Regions from separate parts of the Homo sapiens genome. Here all the other regions are linked to region 4. Evidence: fine-mapped expression QTL. A gene starts in region 4. Each other region holds a variant in brackets. All regions are shown on one strand. Distances are between the middles of the regions. Region 1 has its middle 37 kb from the start of CBFA2T3. Region 2 overlaps ACSF3 (acyl-CoA synthetase family member 3). Region 3 overlaps ACSF3 (acyl-CoA synthetase family member 3). Region 4 holds the start of ACSF3 (acyl-CoA synthetase family member 3). Region 5 has its middle 7.2 kb from the start of ZC3H18-DT. Region 6 holds the start of CDH15 (cadherin 15). Region 7 overlaps ACSF3 (acyl-CoA synthetase family member 3).

Region 1 (4,062 bases), 79 kb after region 4:
CTGGGTGTTGACTGTGCTTGGCTGTTGACCGTGCTGGCTGTTGACCTTGCTGGCTGTTGACCGTGCTGGCTGTTGACCATTCTGGGTGTTGACTATGCTAGCTGTTGACTGTGCTGGCTGTTGACTCTGCTGGGTGTTGACTGTGCTGGCTGTTGACTGTGCTGGCTGTTGACCATCTGGCTGTTGACCGTGCTGGCTGTTGACCGTGCTGGCTGTTGACCATGCTGGCTGTTGACTGTGCTGGCTGTTGACTGTGCTGGGTGTTGACTATGCTAGCTGTTGATTGTGCTGGCTGTTGACCATCTGGCTGTTGACCGTGCTGGCTGTTGACCATGCTGGCTGTTGACCGTGCTGGCTGTTGACCATTCTGGGTGTTGACTATGCTAGCTGCTGACCGTGCTGGCTGTTGACCGTGCTGGCTGTTGACTGTGCTGGGTGTTGACTGTGCTGGCTGTTGGCTGTGCTGGCTGTTGACCTTGCTGGCTGTTGACCGTGCTGGCTGTCGACCGTTCTGGGTGTTGACTATGCTAGCTGTTGACTGTGCTGGCTGTTGGCTGTGCTGGCTGTTGGCTGTGCTGACTGTTGACTGTGCTGACTGTTGACTGTGCTAGCTGTTGGGCTTGGTGTTATAGGCATGTCTTCCCTATTTAACATTTACATTTTTTTAAATTAAAAATGATGTCTTCTCTAGGCCTCTCTAGGCCCTACCTCCAAGAATGGGGTTTCTGCTCAGCGATGATCCTGGAGTGTTAATTGGGGCAGACAGGCCCTCCTCAGCCCCCTGCTCCTGCGTGGAGTTCGCCTCCCCACAGCCCCCGTGCCCCAGGACCAGGCGTTTGTTGTGCAGAGTGTGGGATGCCAGCCCCGGGCAGGGTGCAGGGGGCCTCGGGCAGGGTGCAGGAGCCTCGGGCAGGGTGCGGGGAGCCTCGGGCAGGGTGCAGGGTGCAGGGAACCCCGGGCAGGGTGCAGGGTGCAGGGAGCCCTGGGCAGGGTGTGGGGAGCCTCGTGCAGGGTGCAGGGAGCCTCGGCAGAGTGGTTCCACCTTGGCAGCCAGCCTTGCTGAGGTCCCTGCACTCCTTGCTGTGAGCAGCGGCTATGTCTGCTGGGCTGGGCCCACCGCCTGTTAGGTCTGCCTCCTCCAGCTCCCAGCCCAGGGGTGAAGCCACCTGCATACAGCCGTGGCAGATCTGAGAGGGGTGCTGCAGGGGAGGGAAGCAGCTGGGAGCCCAGGGAGGAGGCAGCAAGTTCCCAGAAGCCCATCGGGGAAGGCTGCTGCTGAGGTCAGGCACCAGCCACCAAAGCCGCCATCCCCCTCCTCGTCCTCCTGCCGAGGTCAGGCACCAGCCGCCAAAGCCGCCGTCCCCCTCCTGGTCCTTCTGCCAAGGTCAGGCACCAGCCGCCAAAGCCGTGGCCCCCCTCCTCATCCAGCCCCTGCTAGTGGCCTAGGCAAAGACCCCTCAGCAGCACCTCTGGCCTTAGCTCGGGAACCAGCTCTCCAGGACCCAGCAGAGGCCACCTCCTGGCGGGGGGATGCAGCCTGGGCCGTCCCTCAGCTCAGCAAGGAGGGCCCCAGGCAATGCTCTGTAAAGAGGGGGCGGCACTAGATGGGGTCTCCAGGTGTGACCTGAGCCACCTGACTGCCACCTGACCCACCTGGGCTTCACATAAATTCAGATGCCCAGGATCCATCCAGCCAGACTGGGCGGGGTCAGGAAATGCACATGTAACAAACACCCCGGCTGGCCCATGTGCTCACCAGCTGACGGTTTCCACGCCAGAGGGTCTCGAGGCGGCCCCTAGCCAATCCCCTTCAGGTGCTCTCATGGAATGTGGCTTGACTGGAGGAGAGCAAGACTGGGTGTTCCAAAGGGGGCCTGGGGCCCTGGGGAGCCCCAGCAGGTGGGAGAGAGCGGCTGGGAAAGAAGCGGTGACAGACGTCCCCGGTCCAGCGGGGCAGGTCCCAGGAGAGCGTGGCCTGGTGGCCCCGGCTTTGCAGCCACTGGGCGCTCCCACAGTGTTGGGGGCCAGGTCTGGCCTCCTTT[T/C]TCCACCTCGAAAGTGCAATCAGGAAGACTGCAGACTGCACAGGGCAGCCCAAGCCTTCCCTGCAGTCCCAGCATCCCCCCACTCCCCACCCCCCACTGCTCATTTTTAATTGGATTTAATTATTTTCCATTTAATTGCATTTTTTAAAGCTCTCCCCAGTGGGGCTCTTGATCTGAACATCCCTCACCTCCCCTCCCCTCCTCTCCCCTGCCCTCCCCTCCCCTCCCCTCCCTTCTCTTCCCCTCCCTTCCCTTCCCCTCCCCTCCCCTCCCCTCTTCCTCTCCTCTTTGGAAACGAGCCTTGGCCTCAGCGGAGAAGTGAGACAGGGCTCCCTCGGGACCTGGGAAGTGGGGGTTCTCCGCCCTGGGGTGGGGGCCTAGAGCCTGGGGGTGTCCTCGTTCACCAGCCAGAGTCCCCTTGGGCCTCCACAGCGTCTGTCTCCCCACCTTCCATCCTTGCTGCCCCCACCCAGTCCCATCTCCCCATCGACTCCTGACTGTCCTTCCCCACTCCTGCCAGATCCAGATGTGATCACGCCGCTCTGTGGAGAAGCCTTCCTGACCCGAACCCCAGCCTGGCACAGAACTCCCATCTGGCCCCTTTTCCTCCCCAAATGCAGCCCTGTCCTCAGCTCCAGCTGAAGGTGGACCTTCCTCACTCTTTCTCTGCCTGCACACCCGCCCAGGTGCTCACCTCTCCCCGCTCACCCGCCCAGGCGCTCACCTCTCTCCCCTGCACTCCACAGCCTGCATTCAGCACACATGTGGACGCACTCGGGAGACACTGGGCCCCCGGCGCTGCGACCACAGGGATTTGCTGAAATTCCCATGAAGAGGTGGAGGTCCCCCTCCTGAGCCTGGGTGGGCGTCTGATTTGCTTTGACCCACAGAACGTGGTGGAAGTGGTGTCCTGCCCTAAGAGGCTGCGTGGCCTCCACCTCTGCCCTCGCGCAGCCGCCCAGAGAACCCCATGGAAGGAGCTGCCGGCTGCCTGTAGGAGACCCGAGGGGCGCCAGCTGCCATCCCCAACTGTCAGCCCAGGAGAATGGCACATTGCTGTTGTTTGAAGCCACTGAGATCTGGGTGTTTGGTTCCACAGCAAGTTAATGACACACCTGCCACTGCGAACAGCACCTTACCTTTCAGACTCAGCCAGATCTCCCCCAACCCCCTGCCCAGCAGCTTCAGCCCCCACTTCCTCCTGGTCCCCACAGAGCTTCAATCAGTCTCATGGCTGAGGCCAGATGCCCTCATCCTCCTTCAGCAGCTTCTGATATCGACCAGGTGGAATTCAGGCTGCCTGCGAACCAGCATCAAAGCCATACCCATCGACAGTGCCTCTGTCCCCGCCTCCTGCAGCCCCAGCTCCAAAACTCCATGCCCTGAGTGTCTTCTCATTCTCCACCCCTGCTGGCTGCACCTGTCCTGCCCACGGAATGTTCTTCACCAACTTCCCATCCAACAAATTCATCCAAGACCCGGATGAACCCTCCCTTCTCCTGCAGACTGTGACCCAGCCACAAGCCCTTTCAGTTTAGATTGTTACTCCTCTTCTTGTTTACGTGGCTCAGCCACCCAGTGGCTCACTTCCTTGCAGCCCCTAAACAGAGAGACGTGCCTGAGCACCCCCCTGCACTGTAAAACTGGTATACAGAAGGAGTCACATAAAGAATGAGATGGGATGAAAAGACACACAAACCCAGGTGCTAATGTTTTTACTTCCTGCAGCCCCCAAGATGCGTTCACCTCTGCCTGATTTACTTCTCTACCTCATGGGATTGTGTCCTGCAAGCCCCCAAGATGAGTTCGCCTCTGCCTGCAGCTTCACAATAGATTGGAAACTTGAGGTAAACATGACCTGTGTTTTACTGTTGTGCTTCCCAAAGGCTAGCAAAGTGCCAGTGCATGTGGCACCAGCTCAGCAAATACCTGTGCATGGATGGACAGGTGGATGAATGGGTGGGTGGGTGCATGGAAGGGTGGGTGGGTGCATGGAAGGGTGGGTGGGTGGAGGAATGGG
Region 2 (4,062 bases), 52 kb before region 4:
CCTCCCTCCTGCTCCGGCCATGTAGGATGTGCCTGTTTCCCCTTTGCCTTCTGCCATGACTGTAAGTTTCCTGAGGCCTCCCCAGCCACGCTTCCTGTATAGCCTGTGGAACCATGAGCCAATTATACCCCGTTTCTTTATAAATTAAAAAAACAAAAGAAATTACTGTAGGTGAAACTAAAAGCTTCCTTTCTGAGCTCAGCCTGGCTCTGCCCTGACGGTCCTATGGGATACCCTTCCGTCCTGACGGCCTTTGACAAGGCCATAGCTCAGGTTCAGCCCTGGGCGTGACCACCACCACTGCTGGCAAAAGTGGAGGGTCTGTGGATCCCATGCATCAGAAACCACTGGGGGTGAGACAGGTGGGAGAAAGTCCTTGGGGAAAGGTTCTGGGTAAGGTAAAGGCAAAACAAAAAATGCAGGTGAGTTTAAGGACTGGGTGGTGGCCACCGCTGAGGAACAGGCCCTGCCCTGGACATGGAGGGGAAAGTGAAATGACTGAGGGGATGGTGATGGTGCTGGGGTCTCCGTGGAACTGACTGGAGGTGTGTGAGGCACCTTCAGGACCCACCCCCAGGGCAGGAGAGGGAGAGGCCGTGCAGGTGCCGACGGAGAATGGGTGGGCCTTGCAGTTCTGCTGGGGCCCAGCACTGGCTTTGGGGCGGCAGGTGGACAGGCTGCCTGTGGCCTGGCGGGGAAGGGCCCAGCGCGTGCGGCCAGCTGGTGTCAACCCTGGATCTCAGCTCCATGCACCTCCTGCATGGGCCTGGCCTGGCTCATCCGGGATCTCTCCTGGGACCAGGACGGAACCCACCACAGGCCGTACAGGGCCCTGTCCCAGGAATGTGAGTTTCTGCCCCCTCGGAATATTGCCACCAAGTCAAATCTGAGCACGGCTCCTGCCCCCTGCCCTCGTCTCTACCTGCTGTGTGCGGCCTTCAGGTCTCTAAGGACCCTCACTGCTGGTCTTTCTTGATCCCTCATCTCCACCTCTAAGACGGACGATGCCAATACCTAGGGTGGCCCTCAAGACTGGACCCCCAAGACCCCATGAGTGCTCCCTGCCCGCCCCACCCAGCCCTACCTGGCCCACTCTTTGAGCTCCCTGTGGGACAGTGAGTGTCCTTCTCGGAGGGTCACCACAGCAGTGACCCGCTGGCCCCATGTCATATCCGGAACTCCAATCACAGCCACATCTGCGGATAGAAGAACAGTTTGAGAACATGGGGATGCCTCAGTGACCCTTACAGGCCGAAGAGTGCCTGGACACACAGGAAGAGCGCAGTCTGGCCGCAGCCCTGGAGCCCGTCCTTGGACAGGCCCCACTCCAATCACTCGTCCTGGTGCTGGCTGGGCCTGTGGGGAGGGGAGTGAGGACGGGCTCCCCACGGTGGATCTGGGGACTGGGCACTCACAGGGGCTCTGCCTTCCCGCCCCTTGGCTCTCTGCACTCTCCCTGCCACCTTCCTGCAGGGGAATCATGCAGATGGGAGCTGCGCCCGGCCAGGCCTGGGAGCTCTGGTGGGCACGGGGTCAGTGGCTCCAACACCGAGCAGGCTGCACCCCCACTAGCCCCATGTTCCCTGGCCAGGGCAGGGACCAGAGGTGAGCATCACAGGGACCCCTGCAGGCAGCTGGGACGGCGTCGACTCATCTGCAGTCGTCTAAAACTCAAACATGGAAGGCAGCACCCGTCTAGCCTGGCCTCCCTGGCCCAAGTCCGGCCACGCACCTGTGATGCTGGGGTGGGCCAGCAGGTGCCACTCCACCTCCAGGGCGCTGACCTTGTAGCCTCCAGTCTTGATGATGTCCACTGAGGTCCGGCCTCGGATCCAGTACTGGCCATCCTTAAACACCACGGTGTCCCCTGAGGAAAAGGGGCTCTGGTTAACTGGCCATCCTTAAACACCACGGTGTCCCCTGAGGAAAAGGGGCTCTGGTTAACTGGCCGTCCTTAAACACCACGGTGTCCTCTGAGGAAAGGGGGCTCTGGTTACTACCCTGTGGCAACCCCAACGGAGAAACAGCTATGCCAGGTAAGCCCACATTCCTGGTGGTCACGACGTGCGTCCCAAGGTGGGACTGTGCCCATGATGTGGGGTCTGCCCTTCCTGTGGGGTCCCTTCCCCATGCTCAGCTGTATGCACTTCCTCCAGGGGCAGGTCAGCAGTGGGTCCAGAGCCTGCCAGGAGCAGGAGGTGCCAGAAGCCCTGCTGGGCCTGTGGTCTGCAGACACCCTGCATTAGGAAGCCGGCTCAGGCCCTGTTTCTGTGACAGTGATTGATAACCACTGGCCATGGGTGGGATG[C/T]GTGGCCTTTTCTGAGCAACAAGCACAGGGTCTGATGCTTTACCCTCCCTCAGGATGGGTGCCAGGGTGTGCTGGGCCTCCTGGCTGTGCTGCTACTGCTGCAAGGGCCCCCAGACGGAGCCCCTGGGACTGCAGCATAGAGGGGCCGCCCCTCATGCAGGCAGGCTGCTCTGGGAGAGGGGCCGAGGCCCACCAGGCCCTGTCCTGCCATTTCTCTCAGGCCCACAAAAGAATCCAGGCCAAATATTCAGTAAAAGAAGTGAACCAGACACATTACAACATCCCACCACGGTGGGCTCCAGCAGTGAATGCCCAGCCCCTCTGGATGGGAGAGGCACCAAGGCCCACGCAGAGGCCACAGGGAGGGGCTGGTGGCTGAGGAGGACAGGGCCTTTCCTGGGTGCCTGGAGCCTCCTGCTGGTGCCCATCTTGTGCCCTCCACACCTGACCATGCTGGTCCTAGAACAATGGCCGGGGCTGCCCCACGTTTTCCTTCCTAAGGCAAAGCCACGACGTGGCCCTTGCTCCTCCCCGTGCAGTTCCTGGAGCTCCTGTGGGAACCAAGCTTCCTTCGTTTTCTTCCTTTCTCGAGTAGCTCAACACAGACACCACCAGCCACTGAGGGTGGGGAGTCGGGAAGAGCGGGCTGCAGCCTCAGAGCCTGTACTCCCAGCCCGAAGCTGTCTCATGACGCATGGGCCCATAGTGTGCGTGCCTGCGAGCGTGTGTGCAGCTGGGAGGGCGCGGTATGCGTGACTGTGAGCATGTGCACGCACACATGTGTGCCGTGGCTGTGGGAGCATGCAGGGCATGTAAGGGCAGTGCTGAGGCCTCAACTGTCTGCTTCCACATACCCTGCACTCCACATGGGTTATTAGCTGGAATAAATCATAAATACTTCATTATACATCATGCTGTTGGACGCAGAAAGGCCCCATCCATCCACCTCACCACTCCTTGAGACCCATGGCGTGCTCCTCAGTCTATTAAACAAGACGGATGGGTGTGCCCAGGTGGGCTCCAGGCTTATTTATGGAGCTCTGGAACTCTGGAACTCTGTGCTGATGGGTAGCAGAAAAACCAGAGGCTCCCCGACAGGAGAGTGGTCTCACTGCGCCCCTGGGGTAGTCTGGGCGGCTGGAAGGGGGTGTGCAGGTTGGGCTGTGGGCGGGGTTGGACACAGCCTGTCCCAAGTCCCGTGGGACCCGCCATGGCTCCTGCTCCTGCTGTGCAGCCTGGCTTGTGTGTCCCCTCTGGACCAGACAGCCACCAATCTTCCAATAGCATCTCTTAATCGCACCGAGCCACCCCGTCCAGGCTGCTCCTGCCCCACGGATGCCACAGCTGCTGACACCAGGGAGGCTGCCAGGTGCTCAGGGCCCTCCATACAGCTTCTGGCCTGGCTCCACCCTGGCCTGCACCACCCAGAGACCCAGCGCAGCATGGAGCCACTGCCCTGCTCTGGTCCTGCCGGAGAGGCCATCACTGCCTGCCCCCAAGGCTGACAAGTCCCCGGCACCCTCTTGAGCTGCCTGTGTCCTGGCTCCAAGGATGCACCACAGTTACTCACGGGGCTGAGGCTGCACCACAGCTACGCACGGGGCTGAGACTGCACCAAAGCTACGCACGGCACTGAGGATGTACCACCGTTACACACCAGGCTGATGCTGGGAGAAACTGGGGGGACGGCACAAGGAACCCCTGTGTGTTATTTCTAATTTCCTGCGAATCTTTTTTATAAGTTTTAAAATGTT
Region 3 (4,062 bases), 26 kb before region 4:
CTGGACACACGGCCGCCCACCTGCCAAGAGCAGAGTGGCTTACCTTGGTCCCCCTCTCGTCTCCCTCTGCGTGGATGGTGTAGGAGCAGGCTTCCCTCTGTGGGTTTTCTGAGACAATGCGCACCTGTACTCCAGGCAGTGGGGTCCCCACGGAACCTACAGGAGAGGAGAAACACTGAAGGGGAGGCTGGAGTGAGAGGAACCTGGAGGAGAGAAGCACACACTGAGCTCGGATCCCGCTGAGCTCCCGTGTGCCACGTGCGGGAGTCTGTGTGGAGGGAGCGACGTGCCCTGTGACCCAGAGAGAAGATGGTGTAGGCACCAGCAGGTGAAAAGCCACACGATACGTGGCTGGCAAGCACGGTGTGCTCAGGCCCAGCCGATGCCACAGTGATGGCCATGTGGCACAGCAGGCACTCACGTGGCACGCTGGGCCTGGCCTGCCCTGGGCCCCTCATACATCACTTTCCCAGTTACTTCCCAAAGCCTCACAGCTGCCCACAGATTCTGGTGTCATTCCCACTTTTACACACTTGCTGGCCAGGGAGGGCTGGCGCCTTGCCCTGATGGCCCCGGGGCTGTCCACGATGAGGGGACCTGTGTGTGCCCGGCACACGACGGGCTAAGGCAGGATCTGCCCTATGTCCCCAGGAGGGGCTGTCCTGAACTCTGCATGGCAGGTGGACCACACTTTGTACTGGCTCATTTATTAGACACCCATGATTTGCTCAGTGTATCCATCCCACCTGCACAGTCTCAACGTGGCTAAAATCATATCTTACACTGGCCGGGGTGGGGGCAGAGCCCAGGTGGCGAGACGTGTCCCGCCGGCACACGCAGGGCTGCCGCAGCCTCGCTCTGCCTGTGGTTTAGGTTGCTGGTGGGACGGCAGAGGCTGCTCATGGAGTGCGGCCCTGGCGATGTGGCGTCAGCACGGGCATGACCTAGGGGCAGAGCAGACGTGGGACTTCCTGTCTATCCCGGGGCGTGAGGCCTTTGCCCTGGCCTGCGTCAGGGGAGTGCCTGAACGCTTATCATGTCTGAGTCCACGCTGAGATTTCCGGCACTTCAAGGGTCAGCATCGAGGGTCAGTGCAGTGAACTCTGCAATCCATGGGGCGTCCCGGCCTCCAGACGCTTGGTGAGGGGCTGTCGGTGCCCGGCTCGGTCTTGCTGATCCTGCTGGGCCTGTCCACACCTGGGGTCCTGCAGGCGAAGCCGGGCTAGTGTGGTGTGCGGAGTGTCACCTCGGGAGTTCTCTGTGGTTCCAGGTATGCAGACGCCCCGAACCTCCACTCTGGTCAGAAACCCGTGTCACCACTATGGGGGGTGTGGCGGGGCCAGCTTCAGCCCCCTTTCTTCCATCCTTTCTCCTCCTTTATGTTTTGCTTCTGAAGATTTTTAAATGGGGGTGAAACCCGCATAACACATGACTTCCCATTTCAGTGCGCGGCACGGCGGTGTTCCGCACACACATTGCACAGCCCCCCACTTCCCCTAGTCAGAACTCCCGCACAGCCCACGACCGCCACACCCTCCCTCCCCAGACCTGGCACCAGGTCTGCTGTCCGCGTCCGTGGTTTTTCTGTTCTGGGCGTTTCATAAGAAGAGGACCATCACAGGCGGCCTTTCGCCTCTTCCTGGTGATGCCTCTACTGGGGCGGGGACGCAGCGCAAGGACACGGCACGGCTGGGGTAGGGGCGGGGGCCGCAGGTGGGGAGGCCGTGTGGCCGTCCCACACCATCTGCAGAGGCTGAAGAGGCTCTGGGATGGTGTCTGGATTCTGCAGCAGCCAAGCAGTGGTATTGTCCATGAGAGCTCAAGGAGTGGCCCCCACACTCCAGGTGCCGCCCGTGAGAGCTTCAGGGAGGGGCCCCCACACTCCAGGTGCCACCCATGAAAGCTTGAGGCAGGGGCCCCCACACTCCAGGTGCCACCCGTGAGAGCTCGAGGGAGGGGTCCCCACACTCCAGGTGCCGCTCGCTGTGCCCC[G/A]GGCATGTGACAGTGTGGACATGAGAGCTCAAGAGAGTGGACAGAGGCTGGCCCCGCAAAGGCCAATGTAGATGGGAGCGCAGCTGCAGGCAGGTGGGGGGCACTGCCTTCCTGCCACAGCCCACCTCTAAAATCGCTGTCAGCCAGCCCCTCCCTGATAACTCTGACTGGGGACTGGGACCCAGGGAACGGAAACCGCCAATGAGGCCCTGGAGCTCCCTGTCAATGCCACAGAGTGGCCCAGGAGCCGTGAGCACCTCTGAGCTCAACCTCCAATTAGAGTGTGACGAGGCCCAGCAGTGGTCGGCCATGAATTATTCATCTCCCTCCACAGGAACCGCACGGAGCAGGCCTGTAACCATAACACACGACAGAGCTCACCCTCCACCCAGCTTCTCTCTCTTCCGAGCACGGACAGTGCACTGAGCAGCGAGGCCAAGCATGAGCTCAGAGCCTGTGGCTGGAGCCGACCCAAGGGTCAAGGCCATGGCCACCAGGGTGGGGGTTAGAGCCTGAGAGTGAGGAAAGCTCTCCTCCACCGTGCCCTCTAGAAACATGGCTCAGGAGGCTGCATTTTGGAGTTTTTGTGGGGCATATTGGATTTAATGCTGAGGTGACTTTACTTACTTTTTTCCAAACCAAAGAACTCACACTGCTGGTGATTTAAAGGCAAGGATAAAATCACAGATATTTGATTCTGCCTTAGAGAAGAGGGAGCGTCCCCGGCGCCCCAGGGAAACTGCCGTATGCTCTGCCTTAGAGAAGAGGGAACATCCCTGGCGCCCGAGGGAACCTGCCGTCAGGCTCTGCCTTAGAGAAGAGAGAGCGTCCCCGGCGCCCGAGGGAATCTGCCGTGGGCTCTGCCTTAGAGAAGAGAGAGCGTCCCCGGCGCCCGAGGGAACCTGCCGTGGGCTCTGCCTTAGAGAAGAGGGAACGTCCCTGGCGCCTGAGGGAACCTGCTGTGGGCTCTGCCTTAGAGAAGAGGGAATGTCCTTGGCGCCTGAGGGAACCTACTGTGGGCTCTGCCTTAGAGAAGAGGGAGCATCCCCGGCACCCGAGGGAACCTGCCGTCGGTAGCTGAAGACTCGGGGATTGGTGCACTCAGGTTTCTTGCCCAATAACCCTGAAGCTTCAGGGTCTCTGGATCCCCCTCCTCAGCCGGGGACTCCTCTCCCTGTGCCATCTGTCTGGGGCTCCTTCCTGTTCGCCTAGGAGTTCTGATTCCAGCGTGGGGAAGCTGAGCCTCCCCTGGGTCTCTGGGCTACTATCTGCTCCTTGGCGCCCTCGGTGTGGACGGCGGTCCCTGGGCTGCTCCTTGGCGCTCTTGGTGTGGACGGCGGTCCCTGGGCTGCTCCTGACGCTCTCAGTGTAGACAGTGGTCCCTGGGCTGCTCCTGACATCCTCGGTGTAGACAGCAGTCCCCGGGCTGCTCCTGACTCCCTGGGTGTAGACAGTGGTCCCTGGGCTGCTCATGACTCCCTCGGTGTAGACAGTGGTCCCTGGGCTGCTCCTGATTTCAGCTTCTCAGCCTTGTATCTGTTCCAGTAAAAAAGGCTAGGGGGGCACTGTCCATCTTCTCTAGTGAGGGCCATTGAAGAGGTCACCGTGCTCCTGGGAAGTGCATCACTCACCAGCCGCGTGACCGTGGGCAGGCTCATGGGTTCTTGTATGTGAGTGCAAAATATGACCCCATCGCAGGGGCTGTTTCGAGAAGATCAAAAGAGAGGACGCCCACAAAGCAATGCTGTGGATGAACAGTCATCATGAACTACAAACTGTGCAGACAGATTCTGAATACACAGAACTTGTCCTGCTCACATGTCCGGAACAAAGAGAGGACAAAGCCCAGAGCCCGTTACCCTTTCAGTCCTCACTTGCCTGCAGCCTGCAGCCTCAGCGAGCCGGGCTTTGCTCATTCCGTCCATATTACGTGGTGACTGTGGCCGGTGGCACTGGACAAAACCAGCACATCCTACTAAGAAGGACAACGATAAGGACAGAGACTCAACAGACCAGTCACATTTGATTTCAAGGTCCCCATCTTATTTCCACCAGAGAGCTTTAGCCACC
Region 4 (4,062 bases):
AAATAAAAAAAACCAAAAAGGAAAAATACACTTGAAACCCATATCCATTTTAGGAAGAAAAATACTATTTTAAAAATGCCATCTGGAAAGGTGACACTTACAACTATCCCAAGCCCACAGTTTAATCCGCCATTTCTGTCTGCCTTGAGGAGATGGTTCAGAGCCAAAGGAGCAAGAGCAAGGGAAGCCTCATCTTATGTCCTCCAACACCTGCGGAGAGGACACCAGCCTGAGCCAGGCTTCACGCTACAAAGCTCGCAGGGTCCCCAGGGTCCACCGGTAGTAACACCCGTGCTCCTGGGTCCACCATGTGAACCCCCTCCTCAACAAGGTCTCAGCCTTGGGCCCTAACACGAATGTCTGTCCTCCCAGGATGGGAAAGCAACAACTATGCCCCAGACACAATTCGTGTTCCTATCTCTAAACGTGTTCCCTTTCTAGCAAATTCCTAATCATTCTTCCAAGCCCAGTTCAAATATCACCTCTTCTTTTTCAGTTTTATTATTTATTGAGACAGTGTCTTGCTCTGCCACCTAGGCTGGAGTGCAATGGTGCTGTCATGGCTCACTGCAGCCTCCGATTCCTGGGCTCAAGAAATCCTCGTGCCTCAGCCTAACCAGTAGCTGGAAGTGCAGGTGTACGCCACCACACCCAGCTAATTTTTACATTTTTTTGTAGAGATAGGGGTCTCACCATGTTGCCCAGGCTGGCTTTGAACTCCTGGCCACAAGTGATCCTCCTGCCTCTGCTGCCCAAAGCGCTGGGATTACAGGCATGAGCCACTGCACCTGGCCTGCCTGGTGGAATTTAGACTCAGGACAGCAACATCAACTCCTGACTGCACCGGGCCTCACCCCTTTAAACCTTCCCTCTCTCCAGGGAATGGGCTGCCTGCAGTACCTTCCAAATACTTCACGGCCGGCCGCACGTCTCCATTGCTTGCTCATAGATCTACATGCCCTCAGGGGCTAGGCCGGCTGTGAACCTGTGCCCCACGCGCCCAGCAAGGTGCACGCAGCAAACAACTAAAACGGGGAGTACTTCAAGGGTGACTTCTGAAGCCCAATGAGAAATGGAAGTGAATTTATTCCAAACACAACCAAAGACGATTCGTTCTGAGGATGCCTGAACACGGACCCCGCCGGCTCGACGGTATCACCGGGCCCGGCGTCCGCACAGCTTCTCTCCCCGCACCCCGCGCGGGGGCCCCGCTCCCCACCGGACACGAGAGGCTCGGCGTCCCGGGAAGGCCGACGCCCGGCCCCAGGCGGCTCGCGGGGAAGCGACCGCGCCACGGGCCACGGCTCAAGCCCAGCTGCGACCCAGGGGCGGGCGCCGGAGCCCGCGCCCCCGAGAGCTCTGCGCCCGGCCGACCCCGCCGCGGTCCCGTGGGCCCCGCCGCCCGCACCTACGAGACGGCCGCGGCCACGGGGCAGGATCTGCCTCGCCACAACTCTTCCTCGTCCTCCGCCGCGCGCGCGCCGGGGTCGGGCCGGGTTCCGGCCGGGTCCCGCGGGGTCGTGAGTCGGGCCGGACCAGTTCCGGCGCCCAACAGCTTCCCCGGCGCGGCGCGTCCGTCGCCCAAGCGCGTCCCCCCGGCGCGGCGCCGTGGCGGCGGGTTCCGGGCGCGCGTGTTCCCCTGTCCCGCCCGTCCCGTCGTGGCGGGGTCGGGGCCGCGGGCGTCTCGTGAGCCGTGGCCGAGGCAAGGCGCCGTGGTCTCCGCTAGCCCAGGGCTGCCCAGATCAGAACGGCGCGCGGGACCACTCCCAACGCGGATTGCTGGGCCTCGCCCCGTCCTCCCAAAAGGGGCTCTCTGGGCTTTGCGGCTGGGGGTCTGCACGCTGAGCTCCTGGGTGATTTTATTATTATTATTATTGTTGTTACTTTTTCTTATTATTATTATTATTTTGAGATGGAGTCTCGCTCTGTCGCCCAGACTAGAGTGCAGTGGTGTGATCTCGGCTCACCGCAACCTCCGCCTCCCGGGTTCAAGTGATTCTCCTGCCTCAACCTCCCAATTAGCTGGGACTACAGGCGCCCGCCATCATGCCTGTCTAATTTTTGTATTTCTTGGGTGATTTTAAACGGACCGCATTTGAGAATCTCTCCTCGAAGGGACTTGGGAACCAGGATACGAATATGAAGCGAGACTGTTGGATGGACAGTGGCGGAAAACATTTAAAGCCAAACACAAAGTCCAGTTGGCTGAAATTTGAGGGTTTTTCCCCTAAAATGAATACTAATAACACAAAGACATGTACTGGCAAACAGTAGTACAAATTATCTGCAGAACCGTCCTGGTGTGATGGCTCACGCCTGTAATCCCAGCACTTTGGGAGGCCGAGGTAGGCAGATCACGAGGTCAGGAGTTCAAGACCAGCCTGACCAACATGGTGAAACCCTGTCTCTCCTAAAAATACAAAAATTAGCCGGGAGTGGTGGCAGGTGCCTGTAATCCCAGTTACTCGGGAGGCTGAGGCAGGAGAATCTCTTGAGCCTGGGAGGTGGCGACTGCAGTGAGCTGAGATTGCGCCACTGCACTCCAGCCTGGGCAGCAGAGTGAGACTGTCTCAAAAAAAAAAAAAAATTATCTGCAGAACCTTGCACAGTTTTTTTGTAAGTGTATTATTTTCCATGCCCATCTTCCTCTCTTGTGATGATTGCTGGGGCAGCAGTTGTGTCCTTGGAAAGCTCAGGAAAGGGCACTTCAGGAGCCCGAGGATGGTTTTCCTGGGAGGAAGGAGCTGGATCTGGGGGAAGTTTGTAACACAGAGCGTGGGAGAACAAACCCAAACTTCTAGTGCCTCTGGTTGCCACCCTGCTAGGTATCATGCAGAAAAAGCAAGTCCAACCCTCTGCCACTGGGACAGGCTTGATCTGGTGTCAGAATTCTGTCTGCTTCCAGGACTCAGCAGGCTGAATGGTGTTTCCGACGAGGGCAGTAGGAAGAGTAAGGAGGGCGTCTAACATCAGGATTCAGCCCCAGGACGTGTGTGCGCAAATTTCTATCCCTGGGAAGTTGAAGAGCTCAGGCTGCGTCACCCACCTAGAGACAGGACTTGGGACAGGGTGACAGCTCCCGTGGTCCTTGGCCATGGCTCTGTGAGGGTGGCAGTGGGGGGAGGGTGCAGTCTCCGAGAAATGGCCCAGTCATCCTATGAGCAGGGGTCCCATCTGTGCCTCGGCTCTGGTCAGCATCATAGTGGCAGGTGGGAAGCAGGAGCAGTCAGGGATTAGCAGACATTGGAGGACAGCCTCTAGCCAGAGAGACGTGGGCTGAAACAACCAGCAGAACAACTGCAGGCAGCCAGGCTGTGCAGAGTGAAGAGACCCCCAAAACCACCCCCTGTTAATACCCTCAGGGAGACAAGGGAAGCGACAGCCCCCATGAGTCCAGAGCGAGATGCCCCGAGAAAGAGCGTTCCAGTAACATAAAGGGGGGCTGGAGGGGTCAGAATACAACAGCCTGAGTAAAAACCCTAAGGGAAGGGCTAAAGGACGTCTCCTAGAAATAGAACAGAAAGACCGAGAGATGAAAAACAGGAGAGGAAAGATAAAAAAATCAGTGGGCTCAGGCAGGCATCCAATATGCTAAATACGGTAGTTTCAGGAAGGGAGGGCAGAGAAAACAGAGAGAAGTCAGCTGTCAGGTAAACTCGTGGACATTAGCAGACGAAGGGCTGCAGAACATCCAGCGCAGGGAGTGAAAGTGGCCGCACCAACCAGGCAGACGACGTCAATGTAGTTTAGAACATGTGGACAGGGAGGGTCCTAAGTGCCCACCTGGCATCTCACTGGGACATCCAAGAGACATCAGACCCCGATGTGGCCCCAGAGGAGCTCAGGTCTCCCCCGCAGCAGCGCCCCCACCCTCACACTTTGCATCTCACCCTCGATCCTGGGGTTCAGTCTATGGCTCCCTGCTTCCCTCCCACACCACATTGAGTCCTACTGGTTTCTCCTGCAAATTCTGTCAGAGACTGTCCCACCAGCGCTGCTGTAACCACCCAGACCAGGAAAGCCTTGTTTCCTAAAGGAGTCCTCACTGGATTCATGAAGAAC
Region 5 (4,062 bases), 540 kb after region 4:
AGCTGTGCCCTCCCGAGCAGGTGAGGCTGGCTGAACCCTCTGGGTTTTCCATCCTTGCCTGTAAGTAGAGCTGAAAACAGCACTTTCGCCCAGGTGCTAGGAAACGAGATGCTGTGTGTAAAGTGACTGGTGGCTGCCTGGCCTGGTGGTAAAGGTCCCGGAAATGGGTGACTGTGTGAGTCCAGGCTCACACTGCTCTAAAGAACTACTGGAGACTGGGTCATTTATGAAGAAAGAGGTTTAATTGGCTCACAGTTCCACAGGCTGTGTAGGAAGCATGGCTGGGAGTCCTCAGGAAACTCACAATCATGGTGGAAGGTGAAGGGGAAGCAGGCACGTCCTCACATGGCGGCAGGAGAGAGAGAGAGAAAGTGGGGGGCGGGGGAAGTGCCGCATAGTTTAAAACCATCAGATCTCGTGAGAACTCACTATCTGAGAATAGTGAGGGGGAAATCCACCCCCGTGATCCAGTCACCTCCCACCAGGCCCCTCCCCTAACCTTGGGAATGACAATTCGACATGAGATCTGGATGGGGACACAGAGCCAAACCACATCAGTGGCTTTAGGGAGATCTGAGTAGCAATGAAGGCATGGCCCGCTTGGGAGAAAGTGTCTGCAGGAAGCGCCTTGTGAATTCTGCGGTGCTCACCATGGGCTGGGCGGGTTTTCAGTGGGGGCAGCAGGGCCTTGGAGATGGGGCCACACTCTGGGGAACCCTTTGGGTCGGGGAGTGAGCCCCGCTCTGTCTAGACATAGGCAGTCCCAGCACAGCAGAGGGCGGTCCTTAGGTCCGGAAGGGGGCACAGTCAGGCGCGAATTCTGGGCCCTGAGCTGGGGCCATCATCTCCTCCCGAGAGAGAGCACAGGTGCCATTGCAGGTGCTGCTAGGGTGCTGCGTGCCCTCCGAGCTTGGCGACGCTCCACTGAGCTGTGTGAGTCTCCGTCCTGGGCTCCGTGGAGACCAGGATGATAATAAGATGAGGACCAGTGGCTTCCAGGAGCCCCAGTCTTAGAGGTGGAGACAAAGAGCTGTGGAGGGGCTGGGGGTGGAGAGGAGCCAGGGGGTGGGCAGAGGGGGTGGGGATGGGGCGGGAGGCATGGAAGGGGCAGGGGAGAGACGAAGGGCCACTGGAGCCACATTAAGACAGAGGGGAAGTGTTAAGACTTGGAGCTGAAAATGCTGGGAATTAAGCGGAAATTCTGCTAAAAGTTTATGGTAACACACTGGGATGGGGGCCGGGTGCAATGGCTCATGCCTGTAATCCCAGCACTTTGGGAGGCTGAGGCAGGCAGATCACTTGAGGTCAAGAGTTCAAGACCAGCCTGGCCAACATGGCGAAACCCTGTCTCTACTTAAAACAAAAAATTAGCTGAGTGTGGTGGTATGCGCCTGTAATCCCAGCTACTTGGGAGACTGAGGCAGGAGGATCGCTTGAACCCTGGAGGCGGAGGTTGGAGTGAGCCGAGATCGCCTCACTGCACTGCAGCCTGGGTGACAAGAGTGAAACTCTATCAAAAAAAAAAAAAAAAGAAAGCCAAAAATGCTGAGAATTAAGGCAAAATTCTGCTAAAAGGTTATGATAACACCTGGGATGGGAAAGGTCAGGCGTGCAGGATGAGGCCCGAGGGAGAGAGATGCCCCTTGCTTGGCGCCTTGCAAGGCTGGAGGAATGGGGCCGTGGGGAAGGGCGGTGGCCCCTGGCTCAGACAAGGGTTCCCTGGTGGAGGGTTGGCAGCTGTGGGAGGGAGCGGGGAGGCTGGGAGCTGCAGGGCCTCCCTCAAAGCCAACCAGGCCTTTGGCGCCAGCATGGAGGGGCTTGGACCAGCCCTGGAAGGGGAGTCCTTTGTCCCTGTCTCCCTGCCTCCCAGCTGCCCACTGCCCATCCCTGCTCAAGAGAGGAGGCGGGAAGGCTGTGTCAGGGAGGCCCAGCTGGGCTGGGGGTGGGGCCGAGGTTGCTGCTGCGGGTCTTCAGATGAGGACTCGAATGCTCCCAGGGGCCTGGCTGAGGCGGGACCAGCGGAAGGAGTAGGGAGGAGGGCTGGGACAGAGACTGGGTCCCTGAGATACAAGGCAAGGGCAGGGGCCTGGTGTGAACTCGCCCATAACCTCCAGGTTC[G/A]AGTCTCTCCTCCTGAGTGCTCCAGACCTGACCCTTGCTCTTCCCTTGGGACCCCACTGGCAAAAGGGACTTTGCAGATATGACTGAGTTAAGGATCAAGAGAGGGGAGATGACCCTGGATTATCCGGGCGGGTCCCCCTGAACCACAAAGGTCCTCGTAAGAGGCGGGCAGCAGGTCAGAGAGGAGAGGAGAGGCTGCCCTGCTGGCTCTGAAGATGGAGGAGGGGCTGAGAGCCAAGGAACGCAGGCAGCCTCTGGAAGCTGGGAAAGGCGAGGAACGGATTCTCCCCGGAGCCCTTCCAGGAGGAAGCAGCCCTGCCCACACCTCAGTTTTAGCCCTGAGAAACCTGCGTTAGCTTCTGGCCTGCAGAACTGTGAGAGGATGAAGCTGTGTGGTTTCAAGCCACTAACTCTGGGGTTTTTTGTTCCAGCAGCCACAGGACCCTCGTCCAGAGACCAGCACCCCAGCCTGACCGGGGCTTCCTGGTGACCTGCCCAGGCTCCCACCTCTCTGCTAGCTGGGGCTGTAAACATTTTATACTTGTGATGAGGCCACCAGCAAACGCGGAGGCCTTCCTCCGGCGGTGACCCAGTGATGAGCCTGGGCCGATGTCCCCAGGCACACTGGGGTTTTCACAGAAGCAATAACATCTCTGTCATTTTTTTCCAGACCTCACTGAAGATCCCCCTACCCCAGGCTCAAGTCAGAGAGAGAGGAGGTGGCAGTGCCGGAATTTCAGCTGCGCATCCGTCCCAGCTCTGCACTGCGGGCGTCCGTCCCAGCTCTGCACTGCGTGCGTCCCGCCCTGGCTGGAGCTTGCAGACGGCAGCCCTGCAGGAACCCACCGGGGCTGACTCCTTCCTCCCCAGATCCCACAAAACAGCAGTGGATCTCCACTCGGCACGCATTCCCCTCTACATTCACACGAAGTGTCTTTTAATGGAAAGTGTATAAACTCGTTAATTTTGGTTACTGCACTGAAGTTAGGCAAGCTTCTGCAGCTTTATTAAATGACCAATGCTGTCCCTCCTGAGTGTGAAATTAACTCACTTTTCCTTTTTTTTTTTTGGGGGGATGGAGTCTTGCTCTGTCACCCAGGCTGGAGTGCATGGTGCCATCTCAGTTCACTGCAAGCTCCGCCTTCCGGGTTCATGCCATTCTCCTGTCTCAGCCTCCCGAGTAGCTGGGACTACAGACGCCCGCCACTGCGCCCGGCTAATTTTTTGTATTTTTAGTAGAGATGGGGTTTCACTGTGTTAGCCAGGATGGTCTCAATCTCCTGACCTTGTGATCCGCCTGCCTCAACCTCCCAAAGTGCTGGGATTACAGGCGTGAGCCACCGCGCCTGGCAGATTAACTCACTTTTCATGGCAGGTTTGAGGGAGACAGAGAAAACTCTTCTCTCACCTGAAACCGTGGCTTTGAGAAAAATAAAGTAGAACGACCGTGGCTCTTGGGAGCACTATCTGAAGGACTTGGCAAAATGTTTCCTCTTAGTGGCACCTGTGATGCCAGGTCTATGAAAAGCCCAGGGAGCCCGGCTGGCACCACCTCTGTGGCGTCCTGTGGGCCTCTGGCCATGCTGTGTCGTGGGAGAAAGAGCCGCCACGCAGCTGTGTCTTGGAGGAGCCTCCCCGCTGCTGTCAGAGGTGCAGCGTGCACTTAAATAGCAAGAACCCAGGTGCAAAGCCTTGAGGCCTGGGGCTCGGTTTCTACCCCTGTGAGGTCCGGGGCTCGGTTTTTGCCCCGTCACACGTGACCACCAGCCGGGAGGTGGGAGGCTTAAAACAACAGAAATTTACTCTCTCAAAGCTCTGGAGGCCACAAATCTGAAACCAAGAGGTCTCAGGGCTGCCCTCCCTGCAGGGCTCAGGGAGGCCCCTTCCTGCCTCTCCAGCTCCTGGCTGGTGGCTTTCTCGCTGTCCGTTTTCATACAGCCCCTC
Region 6 (4,062 bases), 78 kb before region 4:
TGATGGGCCCACGCTGCCTGCCTGGGGGCTCACCAGGAGGCGGCCCAGGACCCCAAGGCTGCCCAGGAGAGCTCACAGTCCTGAAAGCTGAGCTGCTGGGGGAGGGGCAGGCAGGGTCCTGACACTGACATATTTTGCCTCACAGTGGAGTGAATTTGAGCCTTGGCGATAGTCCCCTTGCCATCTGGCCCCCACCTCCACCACCTCCCCCAGCCTCCAGCTGTCGGGGGAGGGGGTTATTGTCCCCCAGCCCTGGGCGAGAAAAGAAGGGACAGTGAGAGGGAAGGCTTCTGAGGAGGGAGAGGTCCTGCCTGCCTCCCCACCTGCCACAGAGCCCCCTGGGGCCTTTTGAAAGGCAGACACTCCCAAATCCAAAGGAAGAGGTCTGGAGGAATGTTTTCACAGGCGCCAGCCTCCCCACCACCATGCCCTGGGTTGGGGTGCCAGGGAAGAAACCCTGTCCCCAGAGCAGGTGGGGAAGGGCCCTGGAGGCATGGAGCCCCCCAGCCTGCGCTCCCCGGCAGAGGGCTGAGGGGTGGAGGGCCGGGGGGTGAGCACGCATGCTGAGCCACTGTCTCCCCCCACCACTGTCTCCAGATGGGGGAGTCGGGGGTGGCAGGAGCCGTGGTGCCCTCAGGGGCAGCTGCTGGAGGGTCTGGCTGGCCAGGCGCCTGGTCAGCTGCCAGGGGCTGAAATTGGAGCCAGCTGGAGCTGGGAGGCCTGTGGGAATGAGGGGACTCAGGAAGCCCCTTCAGTGGGGGCTGGGAAAGGAGTGGCTTCCCTTACTCACTGTGTCCAGCACTCCCTGACCACCCCAGGACCACAAGAGCAATGAATACTGTGAGCACCGCTAAGCCCTTTATGTGCATTCTCTCTCGAATTGGCCAGAGAGAGGCTGCCCTCTTGTACCCAGTGACGTCCCAACCACAGCCGGCCATGCCCCAGCCCAGCCCAGTCCCTGGGGGCTGAAGCCACTGAGGCCACATCCTCCATGTCTAGGTCCCCCTAGGGTGTGAGGAGACGTGGCTCCAGCTAGGCAGTACCCATGTCGGGTGTGGGGGGCTGAGGCCTGGGCTTCCTTCCACTCTGGCTTGCTCCCACGTTGGAGAGACCACGGTGCCAGCAGTCCAGACAAGATTTTTAGGGGCAGAGTCCAGCAGCCTCTGGGGGCTGGGCCCCCAGGCCTGATCACCCCAGGCAGCTGCGGCAGGGTCCCAGGTGAAGCCCAGGAACAGAGCCCCCAGGGCTGCCACACGCCACTCTGCAAGGCCGTGTGTTGCGACCTGGCTCGGGCTGGGCCCTCCCAATCGAGAAGTAGCCGTGAGGGTGAGTTCCTGGGGGCAGGGCCTGCAGCCACCCCTGCTGGCCAGGAACTTGGGGTGGGGGGTTTGGACAAAACCCAAGACTAGCCAGGGGTCCTGTGCCCACCGCAGGGAGTCCCTATAGAAACCTGGCCCCCAGCCCCCCAGAGAGGGGCACTCCTGCCGCTCCCCCCTCTCTCTGCTCCACTCAAGACTGGCAACCCCCAGACCCCGGCAGCGGTTCCTCCAAAGAGAGGGCACGGCTACCTGGGTGGCCCCTGCCTGGGGTCCCTGACCCCAGCAGCACTCTGCAGTCCTGGGGGTGATTCCACCAGATGGAGTGTTTGGTTACACTCACTCCCCACAACCCCTGGGGTGCTGCCCCCAGCCCAGGGACCCACCCGGAGCCACTCCGCTCACAGGCCCCCAAAGGCGACCAGGGCCAGTGGTTCTGGGGGAGACCTGTGCGGCTGCAGTTGAAGACACTGTCCCGCAGCGTCGAGGGAGGCAGCGGGGACCCCCGCAGGTGCCGATGCCTTACCTGGGCCAACAGCCCGAGGACGAGGAGGAACGCGGCGTCCATCGGGGCCGAGGCGGGAGCCGGGCCGGAGTGCACCCGCGACCCGAAGAAG[C/T]GCGTCCAGGCTGAGTGACAGCGCAAGTGCGCGGGGCGGGCCAGGGCCAGAGACAGAGACAGCACGTGTGAGGGGGGCGGGGAGGGGGCGGGGCAAGGGCTGAGTGACAGCACGAAGGAGGCCTCTGACGGGCCGAGGGCCGGCCTGGGCAGGGCTAAGGCTGAGTGACAGCGTGTTGGCAGGCGGGTGGGGCGGAGCCTCTGGCGAGCTAGGGCGGGGCGCAGGCTGAGTGATAGCCCGTGTGCGAGTGGGGCAGGCGGGGCGGGGCCGGGGCCGAGGGCTGAGTGACAGCGCAGGTGCGCCGGCGGGGCGGTGACCGCACGAGGCTGGTGGGGCGGAGCCAGAGGAGGATGGGGCGGGCGGGGCGGGGCCGAGGGCTGAGTGACACCTTGTGAGAGTGCGGGGTGGGGCCGGGGTGGGGCCGGGGCGGGGCCGAGGGCTGAGTGATAGCTTTTGCGGGGTTCCGGCGGGCAGGGCCAGGGCTAGGTCGGAGATACCCCGGCTTGCTGCGTTGGGAGCAGAGCCAGAGGCCAGGCTGTGGGGAAGGCAGGGTGGGTGCGTCCGGGTCAGGGACCAGCTGGGATTCCTGGCTTCTTCATTTCCTGCTCCTTGGGCCCGGCTCGCCCCTGCTCCAGGGAATCTGCATTGTAGTCCCTGCCGGGGGACACCTCTTGAGCACTTCCTTGGGCCCCTCGCCTCTCTGGCTGCGTCTCCTGCGCCTCCCCGCATCCCACTGAACGCTAGGCCCGCCTTCCACGCACCTCCTCGCGACCTCATTTTGCCCAGCTCTTATTCAGTATGGAACTGCTCTGGTTCACACGCCTCTGATACCAGCGTGGCTCGTAGGACACCCCCAATTCCCCCAGTCCACGCACCTCCTCCAGCATCCCCTTGTTCCCCGAGGCCCCCTGCCTGGAGCACCTTCCTTCCTACAGAACTCCTTCTCATCATCCCTCAACACCCAAGGTCAACGCTGCCGCCTCCTGGAGCCTCCTTGCCACCTCGGCCAGAAGCCCTCCCTCCTGTTGACTGTGGCACCTGTTCTCCCCTTCGAGACCCCGCCCCCTGGGATGGTGTGGGTGTGGCTCAACACCTGCACAGGCCCAGCGCACGGTCAGGAAGGTCCTGGAGAGGGGGTGGAGGGGGCTGGAGGCAGGAGGATCCTTTCTTTTGAGCAGGCAGGGTGGGGAGTGGGGGTTGCCGACCAGCCCAGGGCCGGGCCGGGGAGCCCGTTCCTCTCTGTGATGGGAGCAGACCCGGTACCTCTGCTCTCCTGTCGACGGCGGGTGGCTGTGCAGGTGCAGGCAGCATCTGTGCACTTGGCCTGCTTGAAAGGAGGCCAGGCTGCCCGGGAGGCTCAGGCCAGGACTGTCCCTAGCGCTCACTGCTCCAAGATGAGAGAGGGCAGGGAGTCCATCTCCAGACTGGGAGGCCTCTGGGGCTGGGGTGTAGCCTGTTGGGGACCACCATCCTGCCTCTGTGGTCAGTGACCTCAAAATAGGGGTGGAGAAGCCCTCTGAGTGCTTTTGGTTTTCATCCTCACGGGACTAGTGCAGGGGTGAGGTAGAAGTGCTCGCCCTCCCCCCAGAAAGAGGTCTGGGGAGGCTGCGGTCTGCCAACCCCAGCTCCTCTCCGCTTCCACCCTGCACCCACCTCGCTTCAGCCACCTGCCTCCCACCCACCTCGGGGAGAAACGGAGGCCAAATCCCTCCTCCATGGGATGTGGGGGTCTCTAAGGGAAAGGCTAAGCTGGGCCAGGTCCTGGGTGAGCCCCAAATGCAGGGCGGGGCCAGGGAAGCAGCCGGCTTAACCACTGCGGGAGGGTGTGCTCCCTGGCTGGCGGGCTATCCCCCAGGGGCAGGTGCCCCCGCGAGGGACCCCGCTCCACATGCTCCCAGGGCAGCAGGAAGGTCAGGAGGCAGGAGCCTGGGTCCAGTCCCAGCTCGGAGCCTTGGGCTGGAGGTTCTCCCCCGTGCCTCAGTTTCTCCTTGTGTCAGAGGTAGGTGGCAGGGAAGGGCTGGGTACCCTGAGTCTGGAGGTCCTGTGCAGTGGGGGCAGGGGTACATTTTCGGCTGCAGGACCATCAGCCCTAGAAGAGCCCTTCCCTTTCCTGGTGGACCTGGAGACGC
Region 7 (4,062 bases), 40 kb before region 4:
CTGGGTCCTCTGCTGATGTCCAGCCCACGAAGGTGCCTCCCAGGGTACCTTGGGAAGCCTATGAGATGCTGCGTGGGGCACTGGCCTCTGCTCTAGGGGCTCACGGAGCCTTCACTTTGCAAACGTGCGGAACTGCCACACACCTAGCACACCTGCCTCACAGCAGCACATGCTCCAGGGCCTCTGGGACCCACAGGATCAGGCCATGAGGCGGAGAGGCTGCAGGCCAACATTGCCCCTTCCAGCATCCCTCAAGGAGCCCATCCCGCCTGCACGCTGCAGCCCCCCGCTCTGCTCCCTGTGGAAGGGCATGGGGCAGATGCGTTTCTGATTTTGGGCCAGCAGATTCTGATGCATGAAAATGGGCCTCTTTTTTTTGGAAAATATTACTTAAAGGTTATTATAAAATAATGATGTTCAGCATAAAATATAGACAGGCCAAAAAAAAAAAAAAAAAAACCAGGAAAAGAAAAACCACCGCAATCTCACCACCCAGGGGTCAGGAGCAACGTGCACATCTTCCGGATAAATACACTACAGTGAGTACCTGCAGCCACACAACCACGTGTGTCCACTCTCCAAATGTCCACCCACGCACGTCTGCTATCCAAATATCCATGGACATACGTCCACTATCCAAATGTCCATCTGAGAGACAGGACTAGCTGGATTTCCTAGGCCGACTAAGAATCCCTAAGCCTAGCTGGGAAGGTGACCACATCCACCTTTAAGCAGGGGGCTTGCAACTTAGCTCACACCCGACCAGTCAGGTAGTAAAGCGAGCTCACTAAAATGCTAATTAGGCTAAAACAGGAGGTAAACAATAGCCAATCATCTATCTCCTCAGAGCACAGCAGGAGGGACAATGATCGGGATATAAACCTGGCAACGGCTGCCCTCTCTGGGTCCCCTCCCTTTGTATGGGAGCTCTGTTTTCACTCTATTAAATCTTGCAACTACACTCTCTTCTGGTCCGTGGTAGTTACGGCTCAAGTTGAGCTTTCGCTCGCCGTCCACCACTGCTGCTTGCCGCCGTTGCAGACCCGCCGCTGACTTCTATTCCTCCGGATCCCGCAGGGTGTCCACTGTGCTCCTGATCCAGCGAGGCACCCACTGCCACTCCCGACTGGCCTAAAGGCTCGCCATTGTTCCTGCACGGCTAAGCACCCACGTTCATCCTAATCAAGCTGAACACTAGTCACTGGGTTCCATGGTTCTTTTCTGTGGCCCACGGCTTCTAATAGAGCTATAACACTTACCGCATGGCCCAAGATTCCATTCCTTGGAATCCATAAGGCCAAGAACCCCAGGTCAGAGAACACGACGCTTGCCACCATCTTGGAAGCAGCCTGCCGCCATTTTGGAAGCTGCCCGCTACCATCTTGGGAGCTCTGGGAGCAAGGACCCCCTAGTAACACATCCACATACGTCCGCTATCCAAATGTCCATCCATATACGTCCACTATCCAAATGTCGAAATATCCACTGTCCAAATACGCCCCATGGGGCGGGATGTGGGATCCTGGGACCAAGCCAGCTTCTCACAAAGGAGGGGGGTCAGGCAGCAGCAGCTCAGGGCAGGCTCAGGGAGAGCAGGAGGGTGGCAGTGGGGGCTGCCAGCAGGCTCCAGGGGCGCCGCCGTCTCTCCTGACCGCCACAGGCTTCCTGGGCCACCTCAATCAGGTGGGCAGGTTCCCACTCACCCACAGGCCTGTTCTGGCAGGCAGAGAGAATGTGCTAATTTGTGGAACAGTAAACAAACAGCCGCACTGCAAACCAACCGCACTGCGTCAGCTGACTTCTGACTCTGGTGGGGAGAAGGATGTGGAGGGCACAAGTGTGGCTAAGCGTGGGGGTGGTGAGGTCTCTGGGTACAGGGGTACACCTCGGAGGTGGAGGGTGCCCCAGCCCACGAGGGGCAGCAGGGCCACCAGGAAGGGCTGCGTGGGGCCCGGCGTCTGTGGTCAGGGTGCGTGCGTGCCGGAGCGGCTGTCGCGCTGAGGGACAGTGTAGAAGCCTTGTCATGGGGCACTGGGGCCCCTGGCACTGAGGGACAGGGCCAAGGAGCCCACTCTAGAAGCCGGTGGGGAGGCCGGGTGCTCAGGAGGCAGTGCCGTAACAGTGGCCCCCAGCCCCACTCCACCCCATCTTCTGCCTTTGGCTGAAAATTCTGGGAACTCCCAGCCTCGGTGTCACTCAACGTGGGCAGCAATGAGTTCCTGCCTGTCCCCTCGGGGTCTCCTCCACTCCCATGGGGCTGGGTCCTACCTGTCTTAAACCAGCCATC[C/T]AGGGTGAATGCACTCTTAGTTTCTTCTGGTTTATTCCAGTATTCTCGAAACACGGAGGGTCCCCTCACCAGCAGCTCCCCCTCCTTTTCTTCAAACCCTGGGGTCACCTGTGGAGGATGAAGAACATGGAGGTCAGAGCTGGGCACACCCTCTTGGGATTGGTGCTTTCTGAAACTGTGGGCTGCTCCCTGCCCACCCAGGGCCCACCCAGGGCCGCGTGCTTTCTGAAACTGAGCGCTTTGTTGGAATGCTTGGAAAACGCAGCTTTGACAGGTGGAAGCCAACCATGCTGAGCTAAGCATTCCCGCCGTCCTCTGTGGGCCCTGGTGCCCTGGCCGGGAGCTGGGTGTCCTTTCATTCCTCCCAGAACAGCCACAGAAGAACGTGCTCCTACCCCATCCTCTAGACTTGAGCATGTTACCGGCCCAGGCCTCAGCACTCAGAGCCTGGGCTGGATTCAGGCAGCCTGTCCACGTCTAAAACCTGTGCCCAAATCCCATCTTCGGGGGCGTTTCTCAAACCAGGGAACACAGCAGCGGGCACCTGTCCACACCTTGCCCACAGGGGCTGGGGCAGCTTGGAGCGGGCAGCGCCCTCCACAGGGCTGAGTGACCAATTACAAGAGGGAAGACTCCGTGGGAAGGGAAGGTGGGGCCTGAGGGTGGAGGGTCCCTGGAGGCCCCTGTTAAGCATGCAGGCACTGCCATGGCCCCAGGAAACACAGCCTCACTGTTCTTCTATTGTGACCATGGAGAGGGCGGGAGGGAGGCTGGGTTATATGAGCCTGGGCTGGGGGTCCCTGCAGCACCAGGAACAGATGGCACGGGAGGCCCTGGACACGGTGGGTCTGTGAAGACACCGGCCGAGCCCTCGGCTCATAGGTCAGGAGGGTCTGGGGAGGGCAGAGAAGGAGCAGGGGCTTCAGATGAGCAGCTGCCAGCTCCACGACCCTCACTCTTCTCTACTGTGAAAGTGACTGGCTGTGACCCCGGAGGTCAAGGGATGCGTACAAGAGTCTCACTGAGGCTCATCACCTGCCATCTGGAATGGACTTCAGAAAACCAGGGGCCAGGGAAGTAGCTGCGAAATAGCAGAACACACTGATCTGATGTGGAGAAAGGGCGCTCAAACGCCGTGGGGCCAACACTGCCCCATGGCAGCCTCTGCCGAGTGTGTCGTCCTGCTGCCAACCCGCCAGCCTGGGCTCCTCCAGGAGGGGCTGACGCCACCCACGGGGGTGAAACACCTGCCCCACATGATGACGGGGCTGCCAACCCGCCAGCCTGGGCTCCTCCAGGAGGGGCTGACGCCACCCACGGGGGTGAAACACCTGCCCCACATGGTGACGGGGCTTTCCGTGCAGTGCCCAGCCTAACTCCTGGCTGCTCAGAGCCTTGTGTTTGTTTTTTCAAAGAAACCACGGACTTTATCTGAATTTCGTGAATTTTTCCACTGCTGTCCTTTATCTGCTCCACTGACGTGGTCAGACTGGCCACTGGTCAGTACACTTGTGGGACATGTAGAGACAGCAAGGCAAAGGCCCTACAAATAAAATGACAATGAGACCAATCCCAGGGAAGGAGGGTCAGACTTTGTAGAGTTAAGCCAACCAAGTCACAGTAAAACAAACACCTCAACATCTTCACAGAATGTCAACAAGACCAAGAATCTCATCCCTAACATTAAAAATATCCAGGGTACAATACAAAGTTACTCAACACGGGAAAAAACCAGAAAAATAGCAACTCATATAGAAAAAGAATACAACAGCACT

The links. PIP is the estimated chance that this variant, and not a neighbour inherited with it, causes the effect.
Region 1: its variant is fine-mapped to the expression of ACSF3 in sun-exposed skin (GTEx, PIP 0.97).
Region 2: its variant is fine-mapped to the expression of ACSF3 in blood mononuclear cells (TOPMed, PIP 0.99).
Region 3: its variant is fine-mapped to the expression of ACSF3 in whole blood (TOPMed, PIP above 0.99).
Region 5: its variant is fine-mapped to the expression of ACSF3 in breast (GTEx, PIP above 0.99).
Region 6: its variant is fine-mapped to the expression of ACSF3 in monocytes (TOPMed, PIP above 0.99).
Region 7: its variant is fine-mapped to the expression of ACSF3 in whole blood (TOPMed, PIP above 0.99).

The regions. Positions count from the first base shown.
Region 1 is chr16:89,012,648-89,016,709 of GRCh38, reverse strand. No RefSeq gene overlaps it. Among named protein-coding and RNA genes, the nearest start is that of CBFA2T3, 37 kb to the right of the region's middle. The variant T/C (reference allele first, on the strand shown) is at 2,043.
Region 2 is chr16:89,143,072-89,147,133 of GRCh38, reverse strand. ACSF3 (acyl-CoA synthetase family member 3) reads right to left here. Exons shown (of 11, transcript NM_001243279.3): 9 at 1,733-1,867; 10 at 1,085-1,196. Among named protein-coding and RNA genes, the nearest start is that of LINC00304, 14 kb to the left of the region's middle. The variant C/T (reference allele first, on the strand shown) is at 2,309.
Region 3 is chr16:89,116,895-89,120,956 of GRCh38, reverse strand. ACSF3 (acyl-CoA synthetase family member 3) reads right to left here. Exons shown (of 11, transcript NM_001243279.3): 7 at 44-156. Among named protein-coding and RNA genes, the nearest start is that of ACSF3, 25 kb to the right of the region's middle. RefSeq lists an enhancer at 2,142-2,436 and a silencer at 2,142-2,436. The variant G/A (reference allele first, on the strand shown) is at 1,993.
Region 4 is chr16:89,091,343-89,095,404 of GRCh38, reverse strand. It overlaps ACSF3 (acyl-CoA synthetase family member 3), which reads right to left and starts at 1,553. Exons shown (of 11, transcript NM_001243279.3): 1 at 1,409-1,553. RefSeq lists an enhancer at 770-959 and a silencer at 1,380-1,789.
Region 5 is chr16:88,552,789-88,556,850 of GRCh38, reverse strand. No RefSeq gene overlaps it. Among named protein-coding and RNA genes, the nearest start is that of ZC3H18-DT, 7.2 kb to the left of the region's middle. The variant G/A (reference allele first, on the strand shown) is at 2,119.
Region 6 is chr16:89,169,654-89,173,715 of GRCh38, reverse strand. It overlaps CDH15 (cadherin 15), which reads right to left and starts at 1,968. Exons shown (of 14, transcript NM_004933.3): 1 at 1,843-1,968. The coding sequence starts at 1,884. RefSeq lists a silencer at 1,893-2,532. The variant C/T (reference allele first, on the strand shown) is at 1,934.
Region 7 is chr16:89,131,469-89,135,530 of GRCh38, reverse strand. ACSF3 (acyl-CoA synthetase family member 3) reads right to left here. Exons shown (of 11, transcript NM_001243279.3): 8 at 2,269-2,395. Among named protein-coding and RNA genes, the nearest start is that of LINC00304, 26 kb to the left of the region's middle. RefSeq lists an enhancer at 563-1,462. The variant C/T (reference allele first, on the strand shown) is at 2,288.